2 separate regions of the Homo sapiens genome follow, and region 2 is linked to region 1. The links come from fine-mapping of genetic effects on gene expression. A gene starts in region 1. The other region holds a variant in brackets. All regions are shown on one strand. Distances are between the middles of the regions.

Region 1 (11,897 bases):
CAGCCCTTCAGATATTTCAACACTCCTCTCAGCATCCTCCACTTCCCCCATCTCTCCAAGCTGAACTTGGTTCACAGGGTGGGATTGTGTATGTGCATGCAGGAGGTGGGGGTGGACAGTGCCCTGGGCTGGAATCCCCCTTAGTTCTAAGTGCCTCCTTGCCCGCAGCTTCGAGAGCTGTGCCCAGGAGTGAACAACCAGCCCTACCTCTGTGAGAGTGGTCACTGCTGCGGGGAGACTGGCTGCTGCACCTACTACTATGAGCTCTGGTGTAAGTCTCCAAGAGGGCTATTTCCAGGTCCCTGTGTCCACCCTCCCTTGGACCTCAGAATTTCGGCCTTCAGGGCCCCTTCTCTGCATGAAAGATGCCTGAGTTGCTCCCTCCTTGCCTCTTGCAGGGTTCTGGCTGCTCTGGACTGTCCTCATCCTCTTTAGCTGCTGTTGCGCCTTCCGCCACCGACGAGCTAAACTCAGGCTGCAACAACAGCAGCGGCAGCGTGAAATCAACTTGTTGGCCTATCATGGGGCATGCCATGGGGCTGGTCCTTTCCCTACCGGTTCACTGCTTGACCTTCGTGAGTGACTTGATGCCCTGGGTCAGCTACCAGTGGCCCTCCCCAAACCAGAACCCCAAATCGTCTCACATTCCCTTTTCCACACATTTCAAAGTATTTTTCCCTAATATAAAAACTAGCACCCTATACCTGGTTGTCTTCAACCAATCATGCCAATTTTCTCCCCTGCAGGCTTCCTCAGCACCTTCAAGCCCCCAGCCTACGAGGATGTGGTTCACCGCCCAGGCACACCACCCCCCCCTTATACTGTGGCCCCAGGCCGCCCCTTGACTGCTTCCAGTGAACAAACCTGCTGTTCCTCCTCATCCAGCTGCCCTGCCCACTTTGAAGGAACAAATGTGGAAGGTGTTTCCTCCCACCAGAGTGCCCCCCCTCATCAGGAGGGTGAGCCCGGGGCAGGGGTGACCCCTGCCTCCACACCCCCCTCCTGCCGCTATCGCCGTTTAACTGGCGACTCCGGTATTGAGCTCTGCCCTTGTCCTGCCTCCGGTGAGGGTGAGCCAGTCAAGGAGGTGAGGGTTAGTGCCACCCTGCCAGATCTGGAGGACTACTCCCCGTGTGCACTACCCCCAGAGTCTGTACCGCAGATCTTTCCCATGGGGCTGTCTTCCAGTGAAGGGGACATCCCATAAGTAGTTTTGAGAGGGTGGATGGGTTACTTGCCCACCAGAAACAGCCCTAGTCCCAACTCCTTGCGTTCCTTTGGCCCCTCCCTGCCTACCTAGAATCTGCCTGAAAGGGCTGGAGAGGGGCAGTATTGGGGGACTGTGCTAGCTTTACCCCCGCAGGACATACACAGGAGCCTTTGATCTCATTAAAGAGATGTGAACCAGCTACTTGTGGATTTGGGTGGACTAAAGCTCAACTCACTGCATTGCACTTGACCTGACTGGGTTTGAAGGGGACAGGTTATGGCCACTTGACCCCACCTTCCCTGAGGACAGCAGACAGTGCTGAGGCCTGGACTGACCTAAGGCCTCTTGGTGAGGCAAATCTGGCAAAAGCAATAGAGTTCAAAATGTTTTTTCCAATTTATTTAGAAAAATAGACTCTGGATTCACATTCACCCCAGGGCTATGTGGGATGACAGCAAGGAGACACCTGAGATGAAATGAGGAAGGTTTGAATTACTGGTATCCAAGGGGCTGGGGGCAAAAGCCAGAAGCCTTTGTCCCTTCAGAGCCAGAGTGGCATGAGTGTCTTGGCTCCCCTCCTCTCCCTCCCTTCAGTAGTCTTCAGCCATGGCCAGTAAGACAAGGCTGGTCCAGCCGTGGAAAGGGCGGCAGCCCATGCCTCGCCCATCGCGGTCACTGTACTGCTCCCAAAGAAAGCCTGTAGCCTGGTACTGGCGCCATACATTGCCTACCACGTTGGCACGGAGCTCACCGTGGAGTTTGGCAGCCCGAGCCTGGTGAGGACCCTCCAGATGCCCATAGTGGTGGAGTGCTCCCAAAGCCAGGTAGTTGACATTGAGCCACACAGCACCCCGCCAGTAGGGGGGATCATGCTCTGAATTGCGCTGGCCATAAAAGGAGCTGGAGGCTGCAAGGGAGCGTAAACCAAAGGGGCTCCAGAGATGGCGGCTGTCGGCTAGAATGTCCAGCAGGGGCCCAAGGCGGGATGAGGTGGGGTCCAGCAGTCGCAGCAGCAAGGGAAAAAGACTGACATAGCCAAGAGCATCTACATACTGCAGTTGAGGTTGGGGCCGACCCACCACCCGAACGAGCCCCTGAGGGGGCCTGGGCTTCAGCTGTACTGCTTTTGTGTGGTTCCCAAAGTCTGCAAAGACTCCTAGCTCTGGGGCCCAGTGCAGCTCATCCAGGCTCTCTGCTGCCTCCAGTGAGGCAGCCAGTGGGCCCAGCTCAGCAGCTACCTCAGCCTCACCCAGATGCTCTGCCAGCCGCGTCAGCACACGGGCACCCAGTGCCACCCAACATCGCAGGTCCAGGTGCCGCTCGGTTACTGAAGGGTGTGAAGCCCGGGGGTAGTCATCCAGCCCAGAGGGTAGGGTCTTGGGGTTCAGTAAGGTTGGTAAGGCAGGGTCCCGTCCCCGCCAGCGGTAAGATAGTGGCAGTGGGCCTGCCTGGCTCTGATGGAGCCAGGAAAACCAGGCATGCAGGCGGGGCAAGGCCTTTCGGAGGAAAGCCAAGTCGTCAGGGTCACCAACCTCTAGCATATGGGCTACAGGCAAAAGTAGGGTTGGGGGGTTGGCGTGGACTGCTCGTTGTACTAGGAATTCTGGAGGCACCCGGGCTCGGGCCTCATCCCCCAGTATCTGCTCCCTCCCAATCCAGCCATCAGCATTTAGCAGCCCCAGCCAGTGGCCAAGGGCTTCCCGGGTGAGGGAGGGATCCCACCGCTGAACCACCAGCTGGTGAAAGCCTTCATCCCAAAGGAAGCCTCGTGGGAAGAATGACCGGGAGGGCACTGCTGTAAAAAGAGGTACGGGTGGAAAGAGGGCTGGGTCCACCTTCTGCTCAGACCCTTCCACCCCGATGTCTGGCAATACCAGCCCTTGTCCGTAGAAGTAGCCAATTCCACCAAGGAGGCCGCTGAGGGCAGCCTGACCCAAAACCTGCTCGCCAGAGCTCAGGCCCTTCTCCTTCAGCTGGAAGGTCTTCTCAAAGCGCTCTCTAAAGCCTTCAGCATGGCTCTCCAGGGCCTGGGTCAGTAGACTGCCTGCCAGTCTTGGCAGGGCTTGATTTCCTCCTGCCTGGGCACTGCCTGATTCAAACACAAACTCTATGGAAATGGGAATTTTCAGGGTCACCTGCTGTATCAAGAACTGCCCCTGCCCTTGCCCACTTGGACCTCTGTCCTCCCACTTCAGGGATCCTGGCAAGCCGAGGTAGCGTTCAGGGGGGGCCCCTGGGGGCCGATGCTGAAACCAGCTATTTAGGCGACTCTTTACCATCTCTGTCAGCAGGGGCAGTCCTGGGTTGGAGGTCCAGAAGACATTGTAGCTTGAAGGGGAGAAGATAAATAGGAAATATTATTCAAGAGAAGGCAGTGGGCATTATAAAGAGAAATACAAAGTGTTCAGGAGTCAGGTTGGGAGGTCTCAGGCAGGGGACATGGAGACTGGTGAAAATGGGAATAACCACCCCTTCCATCCCCCAACATTCTTTTCCCCCAGTTACCTGCCATACTTGGGGGCTGTATCCCCTGGACTGGTTGGTGGCAAAAGTGTAAAGCGGAAGTCACCAAGTTCACTGGTGTGCCCACTGATAAACTTCAACTGCCCCTTGGCCCCAACCTCTGGTAGTAGGACTTCCTTGCCATCTGTCACCACATAGAAGAACAGGGAGACCAAAGGGAGGGCAGAAGTACCTGAGTCCTGAGTGACCAACGAGGACAGAAAAGAACAGTGTTAGATTGGCATTCTCTCTTGAATTCCCTCTTGAGAATCAGCCTTAGTGAGGGAAAGGAACAGTAGGCAGGGGTAATGTAAACAACATACGTCTGGCAGTAATGAGGGTCACTGAGGGTAACCAGGTACACCCAAGCGGGATGAGATAAAGAGCCTTGCACTGGGTGCCCTGGGAGATAACAGTATACTTTTGTACTATGTCCTACACTAAGAACTCTACACAGTTGATTTCATTTAATTCTTTTTTTTTTTTTTTTTTTTTGAGGCGGAGTCTCGCTCTGTCGCCCAGGCTGGAGTGCAGTGGCGCGATCTCAGCTCACTGCAAGCTCCGCCTCCCAGGTTCACGCCATTCTCCTGCCTCAGCCTCCCGAGTAGCTGCGACAATAGGCGCCCGCCACCACGCCCAGCTAATTTTTTGTATTTTTAGTAGAGACCGGGTTTCACCGTGTTAGCCAGGATGGTCTCCATCTCCTGACCTCATGATCCGCCCGCCTCAGCCTCCCAAAGTGCTGGGATTACAGGCGTGAGCCACCGCGCCTGGCTTTTTTTTTTTTCTTGAGATGGAGTTTTGCTCTTGTTGCCCAGGCTGGAGTGCAATGGCACGATCTCGGCTCAGCGCAACCTCCACCTCCCTGGTTCAAGCAATTCTCCTGCCTCAGCCTCCCAAGTAGCTTGGATCACAGGCATGCGCCACCACGCCCGGCTAATTTTATATTTTCAGTAGAGACGGTGTTTCTCCATTTTGGTCAGGCTGGTCTGGAACTCCTGACCTCAGGTGATCCGCCAGCCTCGGCCTCCCAAAGTACTGGGATTACAGGCGTGAGCCACCGCGCCCAGCCTCTTTTTCATTTAATTCTTACAGTCCTGTGAGTTAAGTGCTATTATTATCTACATTGTACATTTTACAAGCAAGGAAATCAAGGCTTAGAGATGGTAAATAGAAATGGTTATACAGGCAGTTGTTTAAGGCAGGATTTAAGCCAGGCAGCCAGAGCCCACTTCATGCTGCATTTGCTGGCAGCAAGGGAAGGATGGAGGGGGTCTGGGCTGAGAAAAGGGTGTCCTGAGGCCCTGACCTGAGGCTCTACAGTCACTCTCCAGCTCCAGTCCCCTCCGTGCTGACCCCCAGGCCTCTTGACGAACTCAGTGGTGAGCCTTAAGGCCCCATCCTGGATGTGTTGGCGCCCGAAGGAGAGGCCGTCGTGGAACTCCCAGCCATAGGGACCCACACCGTCCCCCTGCTCACACGTGTGCCTGAGCTTAGGAGTCCCCGGGGTGGTGCCCTGCTGCGCCCACATCAGTCCTGGGGGTAGAATGGCCACGTAAGTCAAAGAGCAGGGGACCTGTCCCTCCGGGTCTCCGGGTCATCCCTCTTCATAACTCTCCTGATCCATTCCTTCCCACCCTTGCTCTCGCTTCAAGCTGGGGCGCCCAGATTAGGAGTCCGCCTGCCTGCCCGCCCTGGGGCCCGGTTACCGGTGAGGAGGGGCTTCGGGCTGCGGGTCTTCATGCCGAAGTAGACGTGAGGGCGGTAGGTTCCCCAGAAGAGGTCCGGGGCCACGGCGGGGCTGGAGGAGTCGGCAGGCAACACAGGAGGCGCGGAGTGCAGCGTGACCGCCCGCCGCGCACGGTACCACGCCAGCACCCAGCGCCCCGACATACCCAGGGCCAAAGACAGGACCACGACGGCCAGAGCCACTCCTCCAGCCGTGCTACGCGGCCCGCCGCCCCGGCCGTCCCGTCGCCCGGGGCCTCCCCGAGCCGCCCTCTCGGCTGTCCGCACTCCCTCTGCCGGCACTGCGCGGCGCCGCCGCTCGCCCCGAGCCATCCTGGCACTGAGGTCCGCGTCACAAGAGCTCGGAGAGGCGGCAGTGGAGCCCGGGTCCTGCCTCACCTCTCCGGCTCCCGCCTCTCGCCCTGGCGACCACCGTCCGGTTAGCGACACCTGCCAGCCAGCGCCTGCGCCTCCGCCTCCGCCTCCCGCCGGAAGTCCCGCCCCGCCACGTTAGGTTAAGTCCCAGAGTCCGGAACCGCTGCCTGCGGCTTGACACAGGGTTGGTACGTAGCGTCTGTCCTGGGCGTTGGTCCACCGGGATTGCGTTTATCTGGCGACCCCATGGAGTTCACAGGCTCGGAAAAACCAATCTAACGTTGGGCTGAGGCATGAGAATCGTTTGAACCCGGGAGGCGGAGGTTGCAGTGAGCCGAGATTGTGCCACTGCACTCCAGCCTGGGCGACAGAGCGAGACTTCGTCTCAAAAAAAAAAAAAAAAGACTGATGTGGCCAGGCACCGAGGCGCACATCTGTAATCCCAGCACTTTGGGAGGCCGAGGCAGGTGGATCACCAGACATGAGGAGTTGGAGACCAGCCTGGTCAACTTGGTGAAACCCCATCTCTACTAAAAATACAAAAATTAGCCGGGTGTGGTGGTGGGTGCCTGTAATCCCAGCTATTCGGGAGGCTGAGGCAGGAGAATTGCTTGAACCTGGGAGGCGGAGGTTGCAGTGAGCCGATATTGCGCCATTGCACTCCAGCTTGGGCAACAAGAGTGAAACTGTTTCAAAAAAAAAGAAAGAGAGAGAGAGAGAGAGATGGAGGGAGGGAGGGAGGGACGGAGGGAGAGAGAGAGAGAGAGAGAGAGACTGATGCTTTATGCAACACGACCACTTATATTTCACTATAATCTGACTGGTGGCCCCACTCTCCACTAGTGGTAGACTTTTTGCTTATGAAATCATCTGACCAAACCCAATGGTTAGTCCTGTTTTTGTCTTTCTTGCTACCGTTGCATTTGTCGACATCCTTATTGTAGCACTTATTACATACCTGTTTCATTTTTCATCTTTGTATCACAGTACTAATCAATTATAGGCATAAGGCAGATGCTAAATATTTATAAATTCAACACATGTTTATTGTACACCCTATATCGCATTATGCAAGGTGCTGGGGACTCAGAGAAAATGGCCCCAACCTCAAGTTCACAGTCTAGAAGCACAATGCCAGCACTCAATGCATGTTGAACCATACCCATTTTTTTTTTTTTTTTTTTTTTGAGACGGAGTCTCGCTCTGTCACCAGGCTGGAGTGCAATGGCATGATCTCGGCTCACTGCAACCTCTGCCTCCAGGGTTCAAGTGATTCTCCTGCCTCAGCCTCACGAGTAGCTGGGATTACAGGTGCCCACCACCACGCCCAGCTAATTTTTGTATTTTTAGTAGAGATGGAGTTTCACCAGGTTTGCCAGGCTGGTCTCGAACTCCTGACCTCAGGTGATCCACCCACCTCGGCCTCCCAAAGTGCTGGGATTACAGGCGTGAGCCACCGCGCCTGGCCAGACCACCCCCATTTTTACAGATGAGGAGAGTAGTTAAGACTGACCCAAAATAACAGCCAGTTAATTATGGAGCTGGGGAACTCAAATCCAGGTTGTTCTTTTGACTTTAGAATAAGGCCTCTTAGGGCAGGCGCAGTGGCTCAAGCCTGTAGTCCCAGCACTTTGGGAGGCAAAGGCGGGCGGATCACCTGAGGCTGGGAGTTCGAGACCAGCCTGACCGACATGGAGAAACCCCGTCTCTACTAAAAAATACAAAATTATCTGGGCATGGTGGTGCATGCCTGTAATCCCAGCTACTCGTGACACTGAGGCAGGAGAATCACTTGAACCCGGGAGGCAGAGATTGCAGTGAGCCAAGATTGTGCCATTGCACTCCAGCCTGGGCAACAAGAGCGAAACTCTTGTCTCAAAAAAAAAAAAAAAAAAAAAAAAGAATAAATAAGGCCTCTTAGATAACAGCAGTTACTACACTCCCAGCAATGTTTTAGGTACTTTACAGATATTAATTCATTTAATCTCCTTAACAGTCCTATGAGAAAAGTACTATTATTTTCATTTTACAAATGAAATAAGCACTGATAGATTAAATAATTTGTCTAAAGTCATACAGCTACATAAAAACAAAGCTAGGATCTCAACCCCAAGCAGTCTGGCTCATTACAACACTATACTGCCTCCTCCTAGCTTTCTTTTTTAAAGGGGGAGGGGAAAAACGGTCCTTTGAAGATAGCACCCTTTTAGACCGGGAAAAGGTATAGTAATGCTGCTGTAGGAGGGTCGTGGGAAATGTATCTGGCAAAGTACACAGCAGGCCACTGTCTACAGATCTTTTGTTACCTAGCTGAGCATTGTGAAGGTGTCTAAAGCAGTGGCTTTCAACCATTTTCCTACAACTCACAATAAGAAATAATTCCATAGTGCAACCCAGTATGTGCAGATACACATACACACACAACTTATTTAAAACAAGTTACCTAAAAGAATACTTTTAGCTGGGTGTGGTGGCTCACGTCTGTAATCACAGCACTTTAGGAGGCCAAGGCAGGAGAATCACTTGAGTTCAGGAGTTCTAGACCAGCCTGGACAAGATGAGGAGACCCCCCCATCTACAAAAAATTTAAAAATTAGGGTTGGCCGGGTGTGGTGGCTCACGCCTGTAATCCCAGCACCTTGGAAGGCTGAGGCGGTGGATCACCTGAGGTTAGGAGTTCAAGACCAGCCTGGCCAACATGGTGAAACCCCGCCTCTACTAAAAACACAAAAATTAGCTGGGCATGGTGGCACGCGCCTGTAATCCCAGCTACTTAGGAGGCTGAGGCAGGATAATCACTTGAACCCGGGAGGCAGAGGTTGCAGTGAGCTGAGATGGCACCATCGGCGACAGAGCAAGACTCCGTCTCAAAAAAAAAAAAAAAAAAAAATTAGGGCTGGGCACGGTGGCTTACTCTTGTAATCCTAGCACTTCGGGAGGCCAAGGAGGGTGGATTACTTGAGGTCAGGAGTTCCTGACCAGCCTGGCCAACATGGTGAAACTCTGTCTCTACTGAAAATACAAAAATTAGCTGGAAATCGCTTGAACCCAGGAGACAGAGATTGCAGTGAGCTAAAATCGTGCTCCACTGCACTCCAGCCTGGGCAACAGAGCAAGACTCCATCTCAAAAAAAAAAAAAAAAAATTAGGCCAGGCATGGTGGCTCACGCCTGTAATTCCAGCTGCTTGGGAGGCTGAGGCGGGAGGACTGCTTGAGCCCAGGAGATGGAGGGTGCAGTGAGCTACGATTGTGCCACTGCACTCCAGCCTGGGTGACAAAGCATGACTTAATCTCTTTAAACTTCCTATTCTAAGTGCCATGCAGTCTGATTTTTTTTTTTTTTTTTTTTGAGATGGAGCCTTGCTCTTGTCAACCAGGTTAGAGTGCAATGGTGCTATCGGCTTACTGCAACCTCCACTTCCCGGGTTCAAGCAATTCTCCTGCCTCAGCCTCCCAAGTGGCTGGGATTACAGGTGCCCGCCACCACACCCGGCTAATTTTTTGTATTTTTAGTAGAGATGGGGTTTCACCATGTTGGTCAGGTTGGTCTTGAACTCCTGACCTCAGGTGATTCCGCCCACGTCGGCCTCTCAAAGTGATGGGATTACAGGCATGAGCCATTAAACTCAGCCTCAGTCTGATAATTTTTATTCTATTCTACTTTTTTTTTTTTTTTGAGACAGAGTCTCACTCCATCAACCGAGCTGGAGTGCAGTGGCATGATCTCCACTCAGCGCAGCCTCCACCTCCTGGGTTCAAGTGATTCTCCTGTCTCAGCCTTCTGAGTAGCTGAGATTACAGGTGCCTGCCACCACACCCAGCTATTTTTTATTTTTTTATTTTTAGTAGAGACAGCGTTTCATCATATTGGCCTGGCTGGTCTCTAACTCCCAACCTCAAGTGATCTGCCCGCCAAAGCCTCCCAAAGTGCTGGGATTACAGGCATGAGCCACTCCACCCGGCCTACTTTTTTTATTTTATTTTATTATTATTATTTTTTTAAGAATGGTTTAGGCTGGGTGCGGTGGCTCATGCCTGTAATACCAGCACTTTGGGAGGCCGAGGTGGGTAGATCACCTGAGGCCAGGAGTTCGAGACCAGCCTGACCAACATGGAGAAACCCCCTCTACTAAAAGTACAAAATTAGGCATGGTGGTGCATGCCTGTTATCCCAGCTACTTGTGAGGTTGAGGCAGGAGAATTGCTTGAACCCGGGATGCGGAGGTTGCAATGAGCTGAGATTGTGCCATTGCACTCCAGCCTGGGCAACAAGAGCGAAACCCTATCTAAAAAAAAAAAAAAAGAATGGTTTAACTCCCTAAATTGATTGCATGGTCCACACTAATGAGTGTTGAGGAAGTATGAAAAACAGTTTAGGCAATGTTTTTTCTTTTTTTGAGACGGAGTCTTGCTCTGTCACCCAGGCTGGAGTGCAGTGGTGCAGTATCGGCTCACTGTAACCTCCACCTCTTGGGTTCAAGCAGTTCTCCTGCCTCAGCCTCCTGAGTAGCTGGGATTACAGGCAACTGCCACCACGCCCGGCTAATTTTTGTATTTTTAAGAGATGAGGTTTCACCATGTTGGTTGGGCTGGTCTCGAACTCCTGACCTCATGATCCACCCACCTCGGCCAAATCCCAAAGTGCTGGGATTACAGGCATGAGGCACCATGCCCGGCCGGCACTGTTTTCTTAAACAGGGAGTAGTGAGAGATAAAACCCATCGCATGTTTTGGAAGGATAAAATTAAGTGGCAGCAAAAATATTTAGGAAATAGACTGGGTAGCAGAATGCAATAATGATGAATAGAGTGAATGGGAATGGAGAGATCACTTCAGAAGTTTTGTTTTGTTTTTGAGACAGTGTCTTGCTCTGTCACCAGGCTAGAGTGTAGTGGTGCAACCACAGCTCACTCTAGCCTTGAACTCTTAGGCTCAAAAGGATCCTCCTGTCTCAGCCTTCTGAGTAGGTGGGACTACAAGTATGAGCCACCTTGCCCAACTTTCAGGCACTTTTTTAAAAGACAGAATATTCTGAACTGAGTGACCAGATATGCAGAGAATGGAAAGGAACAGAACTAGAGAACACTGGTTTCCAGCCCAGGTGGCTGAGTAGATGAAGTGCCTGTTTTTAAAAAGGAATGGGTAAGTCAGGGAAGAGAGGCAAGTATATGTGTATGTAAGATTATCAATTCTATTTTATACAAAGAGAGTTGGTGGGATTTGGAGGAAATTGGTAGCAGGTAACCTGATTATAGCATAGAAGTTGGGATTAGAACCAAACAGAAATAGTTTAACCCCAGAAGGTGTAATTCAAGTTGTGAAAGAGGATGAGATGCCCCAGAAAAAAATAGAGAAGAAAAAGAATGAAGGTAGAACACCTGTGTGGTTCAAAAGAAAAAGGACCCAAGAGGGAGAGAAGTTCCACAAATGGGTGAATTAAGAGTTGCAGGCCGGGCACAGTGGCTCATGCCTGTAATCCCAGCACTTTGGGAAGCCGAGGGGGCGGATCAGGAGTTTGAGGACAGCCTGGCTGACATGGCAAAGCCCCATCTCTACTGAAAATACAAAAATCAGCCAGGCGTGGTGGCACATGCCTGTAATCCCAGCCACCCAGGAGGCTGAAGCAGGAGAATCACTGGAACCCGGGAGGCGGAGGCTGCAGTGAGCCAAGGTCACGCCACTGCACTCCAGTCTGGGTGACAGAGTGAGACTCTATCTCAAAAACAAGAGTTGTAGATGCGGCCAGGCGTTGGTGGCTCACGCCTGTGAACCCAGCACTTTGGGAGGCCGAGGCAGGAGGATCACTTGTGTCCAAGAGTTAGAGACCAGCCCGTGCAACAGGACAAAACCCCACCTCTATTTAAAAAAAAAAAAAAAAAAAAAAAAAAGATGGAACTGGGATACAACGATGAGAGCTGAAAAAACAGCACTCTGTTAGTGTTTTTGTTTTTTTTTTTTTTTTGAGACAGAGTCTCACTCTTGCTCAGGCTGGAGTGCAGTGGTGTGACCTCAGCCTACTTCAACCTTCACCTCCTGGATTCCAGCGATTCTCTTGCCTCGCTCGGCCTCCCGAGTAGCTGG
Region 2 (11,897 bases), 94 kb after region 1:
CTCCCGGAGGAGCCCCCTCCCTTAGGGCGCTCCTGGCGGCCCTGTTCGAACACCCGTAGCCCCCGCCTCCGGTATGTGCCTCCTCCGTGTACTCTGTCTCACTTGCCCTTTGACAAGAATCAAACTCTCAGTTGGGTGGCTTCCCCTCGACTCCATCCCACACCACCCGTTTTCCCTGGTCCCTCCACATCCTCTCCATCCCCTACTCATTCCCTCTGCGGTTAGCGTGACTCCCCCTACCTTGGCCGAGCAGGACCCTAAGGGCTGGGAGAAGAGTGCTGGTCCTGGAGATCAGTCCTAGGACTTCCAAAAAAAAAAAAAAATGCTCGGCCAGGGGAGACTGGACCCCCCTCTCTCCCCCTTCTCCGTTCGTCCCTCCCACATCCCCCTGAGCCCTCCCACATTCCGCCTTCTCCTTCCATTCCTCCCGGCCAGTTCCCTCCTCTCCTCCTCTGGGTCCTCCCTCCCCGTGGAGCTGGCCACTGCCGCGCCCCCTCCCCCTCCCTGGCCCTCCCGGCTCGTTCAATGAAGCTTTCTCTTCCCGCGGCATGGAGGCCAGGCCTCTGCGGTCAGGGAGCTGACATGCAAGCGGCGGCCGGGCGGCGGGGCGGCCCCGGTGGTGGCGGGAAGCGGTTCAACCCCAGCCCTCCCTCCGAGTCCCGGGCCAGCGGAGTCTAAACAGCCCGGCTCGGGCGGGGCTGGGGGCGGGCCCGGCCAGGGTAAATAAAGCCCCGGAGGCCCGTGTGGGTCTCTCCGGTGCCCGGGGCGCTTTCGGGGTGATGTCATGGCTTTCACTCTGACGTCACCTTGGGCATATGACGTCACGCGCAGCCACCACGCCCAGAGGCCAGGGCCCTCGCGCCAAAACCGAGGACTTTCGGTGGAGCCACTGGCGCGCCCCCACGACGGCGGGTAGGGGCCTGGGGTGCTGCAGCTCCCGGCTAATCCGGGGGTCTCCACCATTCCTTCTCGCTCCTCTCCCTCACCCCACCGCGACCCCCCCAGCGGCTGCCGGCGGGGGCCGGGGAGGGGCGGAAACTCCTCCAGGGAACCCGGCCCCGCCTCCCGCCCCGCCTCCCGCCGCAGGGCCAGGAAGCGCGGAAGGAACCGCCGGGGGCCATGGACGGAGCAGTGATGGAAGGGCCGCTTTTTTTGCAGAGTCAGCGCTTTGGGACCAAGGTAGTCTGGCGCATGGATGCCGAACCTTATCCGGGCTAGTAGTGGGTGAGAGAGCCCAGAAACAGGGAGAGGTGGGCAGCGGGCTGGAGAGCGGCGCCGGGAGTTGGAGAGCCTGTGACTTTCCCGTGAAGTTGCTTTGCACACTCCCGGGAAGCGTCTGTAGTCTAGGGGTTCTGGTCCTGGGGAGACGGAGTGGCATCGTCCTTGGGAAACTTCGCCCCCAACCCCGTTTGGAAGCCCCAGATCCCAAATCGACTTGCGCCGCAACCTCCTTCCCCGTCGGGACCCGGGCCGCCTGCGCACGCCACTCCCTCTCGAGCACTCTCTCTCTCTCCCTAGAGGTGGAGGAAGACCTGGGCCGTGCTCTACCCGGCCAGTCCCCACGGCGTAGCGCGGCTCGAGTTCTTTGACCATAAGGGGTCGAGCTCTGGGGGTGGCCGAGGGAGCTCGCGCCGCCTGGACTGCAAAGTGATCCGTCTGGCTGAGTGTGTGAGTGTGGCCCCCGTCACCGTGGAGACCCCCCCTGAGCCCGGCGCCACTGCCTTCCGCCTGGACACTGCTCAGCGCTCGCACCTGCTGGCGGCCGACGCGCCGTCCAGTGCAGCCTGGGTGCAGACGCTGTGCCGAAACGCCTTTCCGGTGAGGAGCTGCGGCGATGCGGGGTGGGGGCAGTTACAGAGGCAGAGAAATGGGGCTGCCTCAGACCGACCCCCGCTCCCCGCTGAGGAAATTACGGGTTTCTCGATGCTCTCTACTACAGAAAGGCAGCTGGACTCTGGCGCCTACCGATAACCCACCTAAGCTTTCTGCCCTGGAGATGCTGGAGAACTCCTTGTACAGCCCTACCTGGGAAGGTAGACGCCTCAGAAGCCCGGGCAGGGATGGAGTGAAGAGGAGGAGGGCCGAGGGCCTTTGGGAAGTGGGTGGATACCCAGGGGCCCATGGGGAAGTAAGAAGTAGGAAGGCCCTGAGATCTGGCTTCCGAGTGAGTGCTTGGACACTATGCTCATGAGTCCTCTGGGTCCCCACTGCTGCCCCCGTCCCTCCCCCGCAGCTGTCTAATCGTGTATGCCTTCCAGGATCCCAATTCTGGGTAACGGTGCAGAGGACTGAGGCCGCCGAGCGCTGTGGCCTGCATGGCTCCTACGTGCTGAGGGTGGAGGCTGAAAGGCTGACTCTCCTGACCGTGGGGGCCCAGAGTCAGATACTGGAGCCACTCCTGTCCTGGCCCTACACTCTGTTGCGTCGCTATGGCCGGGACAAGGTGCAGGGGCTGTCCGGGAGGGCTTCCTGGGTTGGGCAGCTGTGGGAGGGGTGGGGCAGGACAGAAAGTGGGAAGCTCTGACCTTTGGATCCCCCTTTCTTGCCTACCCGGTGACCCCGCGTCTGTTCGCAGGTGGTCTCTTCTTTGTAGATACCCTAACTAGTGCAGGCGTGTGACTCACTTCCTCTGATGGCTCCTGGTAATGTGTTTCCCCCTCTACCCTCCTTAGGTCATGTTCTCTTTCGAGGCCGGCCGCCGCTGCCCCTCAGGCCCTGGAACCTTCACCTTCCAGACGGCACAGGGAAATGACATCTTCCAGGCAGTTGAGACTGCCATCCACCGGCAGAAGGCCCAGGGAAAGGCCGGACAGGGGCACGATGTTCTCAGAGCTGACTCCCATGAAGGGGAGGTGGCAGAGGGGAAGTTGCCTTCCCCACCTGGCCCCCAAGAGCTCCTCGACAGTCCCCCAGCCCTGTATGCTGAGCCCTTAGACTCCCTGCGCATTGCTCCATGCCCTTCCCAGGACTCCCTATACTCAGACCCCTTGGACAGCACGTCTGCTCAGGCAGGAGAGGGAGTACAACGGAAGAAACCTCTCTATTGGGACTTGTATGAGCATGCGCAGCAGCAGTTGCTGAAGGCCAAGCTGACAGACCCCAAAGAGGATCCCATCTATGATGAACCTGAGGGCCTGGCCCCAGTCCCTCCCCAGGGCCTTTATGATCTGCCTCGGGAGCCCAAGGATGCATGGTGGTGCCAAGCTCGGGTGAAGGAGGAGGGCTATGAGCTCCCCTACAACCCTGCCACTGATGACTACGCTGTGCCACCCCCTCGGAGCACAAAGCCCCTCCTTGCTCCCAAGCCCCAGGGCCCAGCCTTCCCTGAACCTGGTACTGCAACTGGCAGTGGCATCAAAAGCCACAACTCAGCCCTGTACAGCCAGGTCCAGAAGAGCGGGGCCTCAGGGAGCTGGGACTGTGGGCTCTCTAGAGTAGGGACTGACAAGACTGGGGTCAAGTCAGAGGGCTCTACCTGAGAAGGACGGCAAGGCTGAGGTGGCTAAGGGGGACCATGGGGAGGTGGCACTAGGGATCAAAGAAGATGGTTAGAACCAGCAGAAGCCAGAGGGTGGGAGGGGCCATGCTGTGTGAGACCAGGGGACCAGAGGGATGGGAGAGTCAAGGGAAGGACAATCCCAGGAAGTCCTAAGAAGTGGGGCAGATGGCAGGGCTGAGGATGGGCTCTGCATCCCCCAAAGCCATCCCTTCCCTACTTCCCCAAATGAAGGGACGGCTGTGGGACCAGGTCTGTGGAAAGTGGTGCATGGTCAGAATGGGTGCAGTTTGAGGGGCCTGTGTGGAGGCCTCAGGGAGATGTTGGACTGTGCCTGGATCCTTACTCCTGCATTGTTCTTTGCCAGAGACCTATTTAAAAATTTTAAAATTCTCATTAAAGTCAGCTTGGGTTTAAGAAGTTTATGTGTGTGAAGAGAAAAAGAGGGGACACAGTGGTTGGGTTGGGTGTGGTGGGGATCAAGAGGAGAACCAGGAATGTGTTGAGAGTCACGGAGAGGCAAGGGGCCCAGGAAGGGAACAGAAGTGTGGCGGTTCAGTGCCTGGGGAGTCAAGTCAAGCTGCCCTGGGCTAGATGTGAGCTCTGTGGCCCTGGGTGATAACATCTGCAACCCTCAGTTTCCCCTGTGCCCCTCTGTAAAATGGAAAAGCTATAATGGGCTCTACCTCACAGGGCTTTTTGTATGAAATTAGATACATTATAAGTATTTAGTGTAATCTGAAGCACAGGGTGTTTTTTTAAAAGTTTTTATTATTTATGTAGAGATGGCGGGGGGGTCTCACAGTGTTGCTCAGGCTGGTCTCGAACTCCTGGCCTCAAGTGATCATCCCACCTCAGCCTCTCAAAGTGTTGGGATTACAGGTGTGAGCCACTGCTCCCAGCCCAGAGTAAACATTTTATAAATGGTAGCTATTATTCTGTGGATGGAGGGAGCAACAGGAAGGTTGGTACATGTGGGGAGAGGGTAACAGGAAAGGAGTAGGTCTTTTTTTACACCATCCTCTCCCCTGTTCTGGGCAGCCCTCCCACCCCCCAGCACACACACTTTGCATGTAGGTACCAAGCACTTGTCTCTTTGGAGGCTGAAGCCTGGTGGTGTAGTGGGAAGGGCACAGGCTCTGAAATGAGGCTTGGATTTCAATCTTACTTGTCTTTTATGAGCTTTCAAAACCTCATCCTTGTTCCTGAGGTCCAGTTTACCAAAGGTGATCTGACCTCATCCACCTGCTTACACAGAGCTACAAGAAGAAATTCTGAGTTATGAATGCTCCTAACAATGGTAGAAGCTTACTGGGTGTTTAATCTTCACCTGTGTAAACAGTAGCAAATGATTCTAAAGAAAATGAAAGTCCTTGCTGGAGAAAGGACAGGCTCGGGTGTGTCGCTTCCAGACTTGAGGAGTGGGACAGCACTGAAACAGGACAGGAAGGCTGTTGTTTCCCAGTCAGCCCTCACTCACAGAGGCTCAGGCGGATAGAGAGCAAGTCTGACCACAGATAGCCATTATGTGAACCTGAGCATGGATATGGTTAAGCTGGGCAGCTGGGCTCTGGTGCTGGTGACTTAGGGCCTTGAGGGATCCTTCTCCCACTCTGAAGGCAGGAAGAAGGCATCTGAGGAAGATTTGCTGGCTGCTGGCATCTTGGAGGCTCTGCCTGGGACAGGAGTCATAGGCAGGGGGGCCACAGTAGCTCGAGCTCGGTTGGTCTGCAACTGCCCAGTCTGCAAAGAGAGCAACCAGAGCCTTCTCTGAAGATCAGAGTTTCTGAGCACCTATCCCATTCTCTGTTGGGCTTCCTGTCCTAACTCTTTCCTAAGTTCATTCCCTGGAGTGACAGCCTCAAGGCCGAGGACAGTGATCTGGAGTCCCTTAAGCCCAGCCTCCACAGTGCCTGTCTCCTTGCCTGGTGTCCTACCTCTGGCAGCTTGCCTAGCAGCTAACTTGTGGTAGCCTCTGCTCCTACCTCTGGTTTGGAAACGTCCTTCTGTAATTTTAGCTAAGACAAAATGAATTTTTTTTTTTTTTGACAGGATCTT[GCT/G]CTGTTACCCAAGCTGGAGTGCAGTGGCACAATCTTGGCTCACTGCAGCCTTGACCTCCTGGGCTCAAGCAATCCCCCGACCTTAGCCTCCCAAGTAGCTGGGACTACAGTGTGCACTACCACTCCTGGCTAATTTTTTTTGTATTTTTGTAGAGACGAGGTTTTGCCATGTTGCCCAGGCTGGTCTCAAACTCCTGAGCTCAAGCGATCCACCTGCCTCGGCCTTCCAAAGTGCCGGAATTATAGGCATAAGCCACCGTGCCCGGCCTAAAATGAGAATTTTTCTAAAGGCTGTGTTACTAAGAAACTGAGAAAAAGTTAATAAGGGCAAAAGGAAGCCCAAATATTATATAGAACACGGGTTTCATAAAAATATTTCTCTATCCTCAATCACTCTTCCCTCTTCAACCCCAACTGTCTTCAACCCCAGATAGTCATGGGAGTCCTCTCAAGTTACTAATCTTGGTCAGCCTCCTTTCCTCATCTGTAAATGAGCAAACACTTACCTTGCAGGGATGCTGTGAGGATTAAATGAGAAAAACATATAAGCAAGCACTTATCATAAAACCTGGCAAATGACTGGTGCTCTATAAATATTAATTTCCCATCCCTTGGGCATTTCTTTTCCCACCTTTCCTTCAGCCTTTTCTTTCACGAGGACTGTGGTTATAGTTCCTGTGTAGCCAGTTTGCTTAATGGGACAATGGTCTGTTTAATGAGCTATCATAAACACTACAATTAAAACACCTGAACATTATTATATGTAAATGCCCTAGCAAACAGGCCTCCCTACCCAGTAAGGGTTCTAATTTTCCCCTCCACCAGGGGTGGATCCTGGAGGAAGGCTACTCCCTTGGATGGGGGCGGTGTTGGGATGGGGGAGGAGGGTTTTCTAGGACTCTGGGCATGAAGGGGAGGGAGGGGAAGTAAGGAAGAGGAGGGAAGGAGGGGAGCGGTACCTTTCTCGGAGCTCGGCTCTCCCAGTGTGGGTGGAGCCGCCCCTGAGGCTTGGCATAGATGCTGCTCAGGTGTGAGTACAGGTGGCTTTGAACATGCAAGGGGTTGTAGGTGGGCTCCAGCTCCAGGCTGTCCAGCATGCTCTGAGGAAAAGAGAGGAGGGGCCTCACTAGGGAACTTAAGATCACAGAACACAAGATGTCAGGTAGCGATCCAGGAGTGTGAGGGGCTGGAGGAAGTGTGAAACCCCAGGGCTGCCATGAAGGCTGTGAAATAGATGCTGTCCCCCTGGGTGTTCTGGCCTGAGGTCCAGTGCTTGTGATGTAAGGGCCAGGCATGGATAGGAGAAGTAGGAACAACCCTAAGTGGTTAGGAACACTGAACACTCTGGCCCCAAGATGCATGTCCAGGGGTTCTGAGGGGGCCGGCGCACATGAATGCTACAAGGGATCCACTGTGAGCATGGAGGGAGGGTGTGTCAGTGGGCTACCCTGCAGGGCAGGGTGCTCACAGCCTGCAAGGCGAGTACATGGAGTTCTCAGCCTAGAGGTGAGCTGAGCTGAATGGAAAGGGAGGAGGGGATACAGGAGCACAACATTCCTGTGCAGTCAGGTTTTCCGGCCACAACATCCTGTGCCAGGAACCACTGGCCCCAAAGTGAGACACTGAGCAGGCCATGGCCACTTGTGCCCACCTCTCTCTGTGTCTCTGTGGCCGCCAAGCCAAGAGCACAATCCCAGGCCTTGTCCTTGCTGCATTTAAGCTAGCGAGCCAGCAGCGACGTGGTTCCAGTTCTCCCTACCCAGAGCCAGCCCTCCCACTCTTAGCCTGGGGAGACTAGCAGAGCAAATATAGAGAATCCAGATCCCAGGAAGAGGAAAAGGAGAAGGAGGAGAAACAGGTGGAGGAGGAGGGGAGGAGGAGGAGGAGGAGGAGGAGGAGAAGGAGAAGGAGGAGGAGGAGAAGGAGGAGGAGGAGAAGGAGGAGGAGGAGAAGGAGGAGGAGAAGGAGGAGGAGGAGAAGGAGGAGGAGGAGAAGGAGGAGGAGGAGAAGGAGGAGGAGGAGGAGAAGGAGGAGGAGGAGAAGGAGGAGGAGGAGGAGGAGGAGGAGGAGAAGAAGAAAAAGAAGGAGGTAAAAATGGCTTTCAGAGTTGTTTGCTCCTCTGCATCTGCATCTATCACATCTCATCTTGAAGCCCTTCCTATTTTGGGCACCTACATTGGCTGCCTTTTCTCAACAAACATAAATGAGCGCAAACACAGGTATACACATATGCACACGTGCAATGCAGACAGACCCCTAAGAACACACCAGCACACAGATGTGCACAGGCGCATCTACACCCACTGCCACCAATTTAGAGACCCAACCACAGACACACTCGGGCACAAAAACACACAAAGACACGAAAACCCATACAAAGGCTGATTTTTTGGGTCTCCTTTTATTCCCTTCTCCCTTCTTTTTTCTTCTGCTTTCCACTGTGTCTTCTTTCCTTTCCCTCCCAAAGTTCTGCTCTCCCTTGTCTAACTTCACAATCTCCTCTCTGGGGAGGAGGTGGGGGCAGGAGAACCAGTCTGCGCAAAGACAAAACCAAACCAAACAAGCGTCCAGTGCATCCCCAGGAGCTGGACCTGCTGGTGTTGTGGCTTCCTCCCCTGCCTCCCTGTGCCCTGGCCTGACATCAGGTTTCCACTCTGTGATGCTCCCTTTTCTCCTTCACAGCCACCCATTCCTCAGATTTCAGGTCCGTGTGCATGTCGTGTGTCCTCCAGGATGGCTCTAATTCCCAGTCATCACTGATGCCAATATCCCTTTTCTCTCCCAGTTTTTTGTTCTCAAACCTCATTTCCCTCCATTCTATTTCACTCCTTACCCTGCTGCCATAATCTAAGTGTTTACTTCCTTCTTCTGGCATAATTGCCTATCCTTGCTTTCTCTTCTTACTCTCTTACCACACTCCTTCAGCTCCGCATCCATTCCCTCATGGGCTCACTCCTCTCCCTCATCCCTTTCTCAAACTCCATTCGCTTCTAGATCTGTCCCATGAGATCTGGGCTCCACTTGCCTCCACATTCTTAAGGCTATCATCATGTGGGTCCTCAGGTAGCAGGGGGAAGGTGCTGGGCAGCATCAGTTCCCGCGTGGCCACCGCCTTTACCAGCAGTGTGAGGGAGTGTGACGGCATGATCACATAGAAGGTGCTGGCAGGAATTCTCTGGCTGTGTCCTGGGCCCGGTGGTTCCCCCTTGGCTAACAGCAGCCATTCCCTTTTCTGAAACAAGGACATACAGAAATACTGGTTCATCTTTAGTCTATGGCATGGTTTGAGGATCAGTCCCAATTGAAGTTTCCCTGACTTCCAGGGGTGCTGAGGAGGGCAGAGCCATTTAACTTCGGCCCTGGTAGGGAGGGACTTCCTGCATGAATCATCAATATCACAATGTACTACTCTTCCTCCCTGGTTTGAGATATGCCAGAGAGAGTATATAAAAGGGTCAACAATGGAGAGAAAAGTTAAGAAATTCCCTGTAACTTGAAGTAGGTGTTCATCCCAGAGGGGCCTACCACATTCAGCATACATGTGGACTTTTAAGAATTATAATTCTTAAAAACAGAGTCTTGAAGCCCATGGTGCGTGACTGTACCCGTAGCTACTCAGGAGGGTGAGGTGGGAGGATTCCTTGAGCCTAGCAGATCAAGGCTTCAGTGAGCCATGATTGTACCACTGCACTCCAGCCTGGGTGACAGAGTGAGACCCTCTCTGTCTCAAAAGGAAAAAGAAAAAAGCAGTGTCTTGAAACCAAGACTTGTATGGGGTGTTGTCTGTTGTAGAAATTCAGTTCTTCTTTTGAGGGTAATAAAGTCTGGTTGTTTGCTAACAACTGGGATTAGAATGGGCTGACTGGGCAGTATCCCTGGAATGTCCAGAGAGGGTACAAGGTAGTAAGGCCAGATGTGGTGGCTCACATCTGTAATCCCAGCACTTTGGGAGGCCAAGCCAGGAAGACTGCTTGAACCCAGGAGTTCAAGACCAGTCTGTGCAACATACCAAGACTCTACAAAAAATTAAATAAATAAAGATAGATAGATGATTGATAGATAGACAGACAGATAGAGAGAAGGCAGTGAAAGCAGCCTGCAAAGTGGGAGGAGAAAGAGAGAGCAGGGCCGGGAGCGGTGGCACACACCTGTAATCCAGCACTTTGGGAGGCTGAGGCGGGTGGATCACCTGAGGTCAGGAGTTCTCGACCAGCCTGACTAACATGGTGAAACTCCATCTCTACTAAATACAAAAAAATTAGCTGGACGTGGTGGCGCATGCCTGTAATCCGAGCTACTTGGGAGGCTGAGATAGGAGAATTGCTTGTACCTGGGAGGTGGAGGTTGCAGTGAGCTGAGATTGCACCATTGCACTACAGCCTGGGCAATAAGAGCGAAACTCTGTCTCAAAACATAAAAAAAAAAAAAAAAAAAAACATAAAGAAAGAGCAGAGGGAGAGGTGGGTGGGTGCAGGGCCCTTGAGATCATCTCAGCCAATCACAGGACAAGAAGAGTCAGGATTCTGGGGGCAGTGCCTCTGTGGATGATGGGTTATTATGGAACAGAGGGTGGCACTTTGCCATGTGCCATGGTGATGGCAGAGGTTAGGGCATGGGTAAGAAGAAGAGACAACCAGACTTCTGAGAAGATTTTGTAGATGTACCCTTTTAAATGAGCCATGAAAATGAGGCAATTTTTTTTGTGGTAGCTTTTCAACAAAAAACACAAAACTCCAGGAAATATGGAGTTAGAACTATCATAATCATCTCAAACTGTGTCCTCTTACTGGGGGTGATCTTCAGTTACATCTGGTACAAACCGTAACAACCTCCCTGCTACATAAGATAGAAGAAAACACATGAGTTCTGGCTACTCTTATATGAAAAGTTGAGACAAATAATAAAAGAGGAAAGGCAAAAAGGGGGAAAAGATTTTTAGAGGAAAGAGGATTATCAGTGTCTTGTGGAAGACAAATAGAAAGTGACACAGTGAGACAGAAAACACTTGCTGTAGCATGAGAGTTAGACCCCACGGGACACATGCTGGGGTGGGTGTAGGGGAGGCTCTGCACTTTAAAGCAGTGTCATCATTCTGTGCAGTGCGGAGCTCTGAGGAGGTCTGGTAGGCACAGCAAGTGGTAGGAAACCTGTTAACAGCTCCAAGAAAAACAGGTATGTACCATTCCTGCGGTTGCTGACCTCTTTGTGGGGTAGGACTTGACTGATAATTCGGGAGGCATGATGCATCCTCACTAGAAGGTTTTGGGGGTGGGACAGATGATTTGGGCATGGGAAAATTAGTCATAATCATAATTACAAACTTTAAAGGAATGCTTATCAGGCACCAGGTACTGTGCCAAGAGCTTTATGCGTGCCTTCAGAAGTTCATGCTTTCTTAGCATTTTGCTTCTATCTAGAGATGTGCTGTCTTCCTGAAGAACAAATCCAAATGTGCAGGAAAGTCAGCTTGATGCTTAAAATCCATCATGTTGGAAATAAATGGTATACAAATCATGGTGTGTGTGTATGTGGATTGTGGGTTGGACCTGCCCCTGCTCTGAGGACATGGCCTGTTTAAGCCTGGAAGGGATAGAAACCAGGAAGTTTCAGGGGACTCCATTTCAGTTGGCTTAAGTAACTTCTGATGGGGCTCAGGATTTGGATTATTAGTATTATTTTAAATCTTCTATTTTTACATTGATTCGTGCATTTACTTGTGAATTTTTTGTCTATTAAGAATTTATTCAGGCCAGGCACAGTGGCTCACGCCTGTAATGCCAGCACTTTGGGAAGCTGAGGCGGGCAGATCAACTGAGGTTAGGAGTTTGAGACCAGTCTGGCCAACATGGTGAAACCCGGTCTCTAATAAAAATACAAAAACATTAGCCAGGCATGGTGGTGTATGCCTGTAATCCCAGCTACTCAGGAGGCTGAGGCAGGAGAATCACTTGAACCCGGGAGGTGGAGGTTGCAGTGAGCCGAGATCACACCACTGCACTCCAGCCTGGGCGACAGAGCGGGACTCCATCTCAAAAAAAAAAAAAGAATTTATTGAGCGCCTATTATGTTCCAAGCACTAGGTGTGGGTACACAGAACCATGCCAGAACAATGACATCATGAGAAAAGAAAACTATAGATCAATATCTCTTATTAATATAGATACAAAAACCCTAACTACATATTAGCAAATCAAATTTAGCAACATATAAAATGAATTATATACTGCAACAAAGTAGGATTTATCCCTAAGGCTGGTTTAATACCCTCAAATCAACTGATGTAATATACTATATTAACAGAATAAAGAACAAAAACTACATAATCATCTCAATAGATGGAG

Direction of the effects. Alleles are on the strand shown, and positions count from the first base shown. SD is a standard deviation of normalised expression in the study named.
For the expression in whole blood of the gene that starts at base 5,908 in region 1, allele GCT in region 2 goes with a higher level than allele G (moderate effect, 0.47 SD a copy in GTEx).

What was found.
Region 2: its variant is fine-mapped to the expression of MOGS in whole blood (GTEx, PIP 0.97).

What each region holds. Positions count from the first base shown.
Region 1 is chr2:74,459,475-74,471,371 of GRCh38, forward strand. It overlaps MOGS (mannosyl-oligosaccharide glucosidase), which reads right to left and starts at 5,908. Exons shown (of 4, transcript NM_006302.3): 1 at 5,422-5,908; 2 at 5,022-5,248; 3 at 3,716-3,912; 4 at 1,583-3,538. The coding sequence starts at 5,773. The coding sequence ends at 1,801. It overlaps WBP1 (WW domain binding protein 1), which reads left to right. Exons shown (of 4, transcript NM_012477.4): 2 at 169-271; 3 at 399-575; 4 at 747-1,407. The coding sequence ends at 1,207. INO80B-WBP1 (INO80B-WBP1 readthrough (NMD candidate)) reads left to right here. Exons shown (of 8, transcript NR_037849.1): 6 at 169-271; 7 at 399-575; 8 at 747-1,417. RefSeq lists silencers at 5,475-5,694, 7,888-8,182.
Region 2 is chr2:74,553,636-74,565,532 of GRCh38, forward strand. DOK1 (docking protein 1) reads left to right here and starts at 1,085. Exons shown (of 5, transcript NM_001381.5): 1 at 1,085-1,179; 2 at 1,519-1,818; 3 at 1,940-2,033; 4 at 2,259-2,443; 5 at 2,673-3,916. The coding sequence starts at 1,120. The coding sequence ends at 3,479. M1AP (meiosis 1 associated protein) reads right to left here. Exons shown (of 11, transcript NM_001321739.2): 8 at 8,582-8,788; 9 at 6,516-6,656; 10 at 6,063-6,074; 11 at 4,248-5,239. The coding sequence ends at 5,081. LOXL3 (lysyl oxidase like 3) reads right to left here and starts at 307. Exons shown (of 14, transcript NM_032603.5): 1 at 241-307. RefSeq lists a silencer at 427-1,176 and enhancers at 1,185-1,702, 1,327-1,386. The variant GCT/G (reference allele first, on the strand shown) is at 5,555.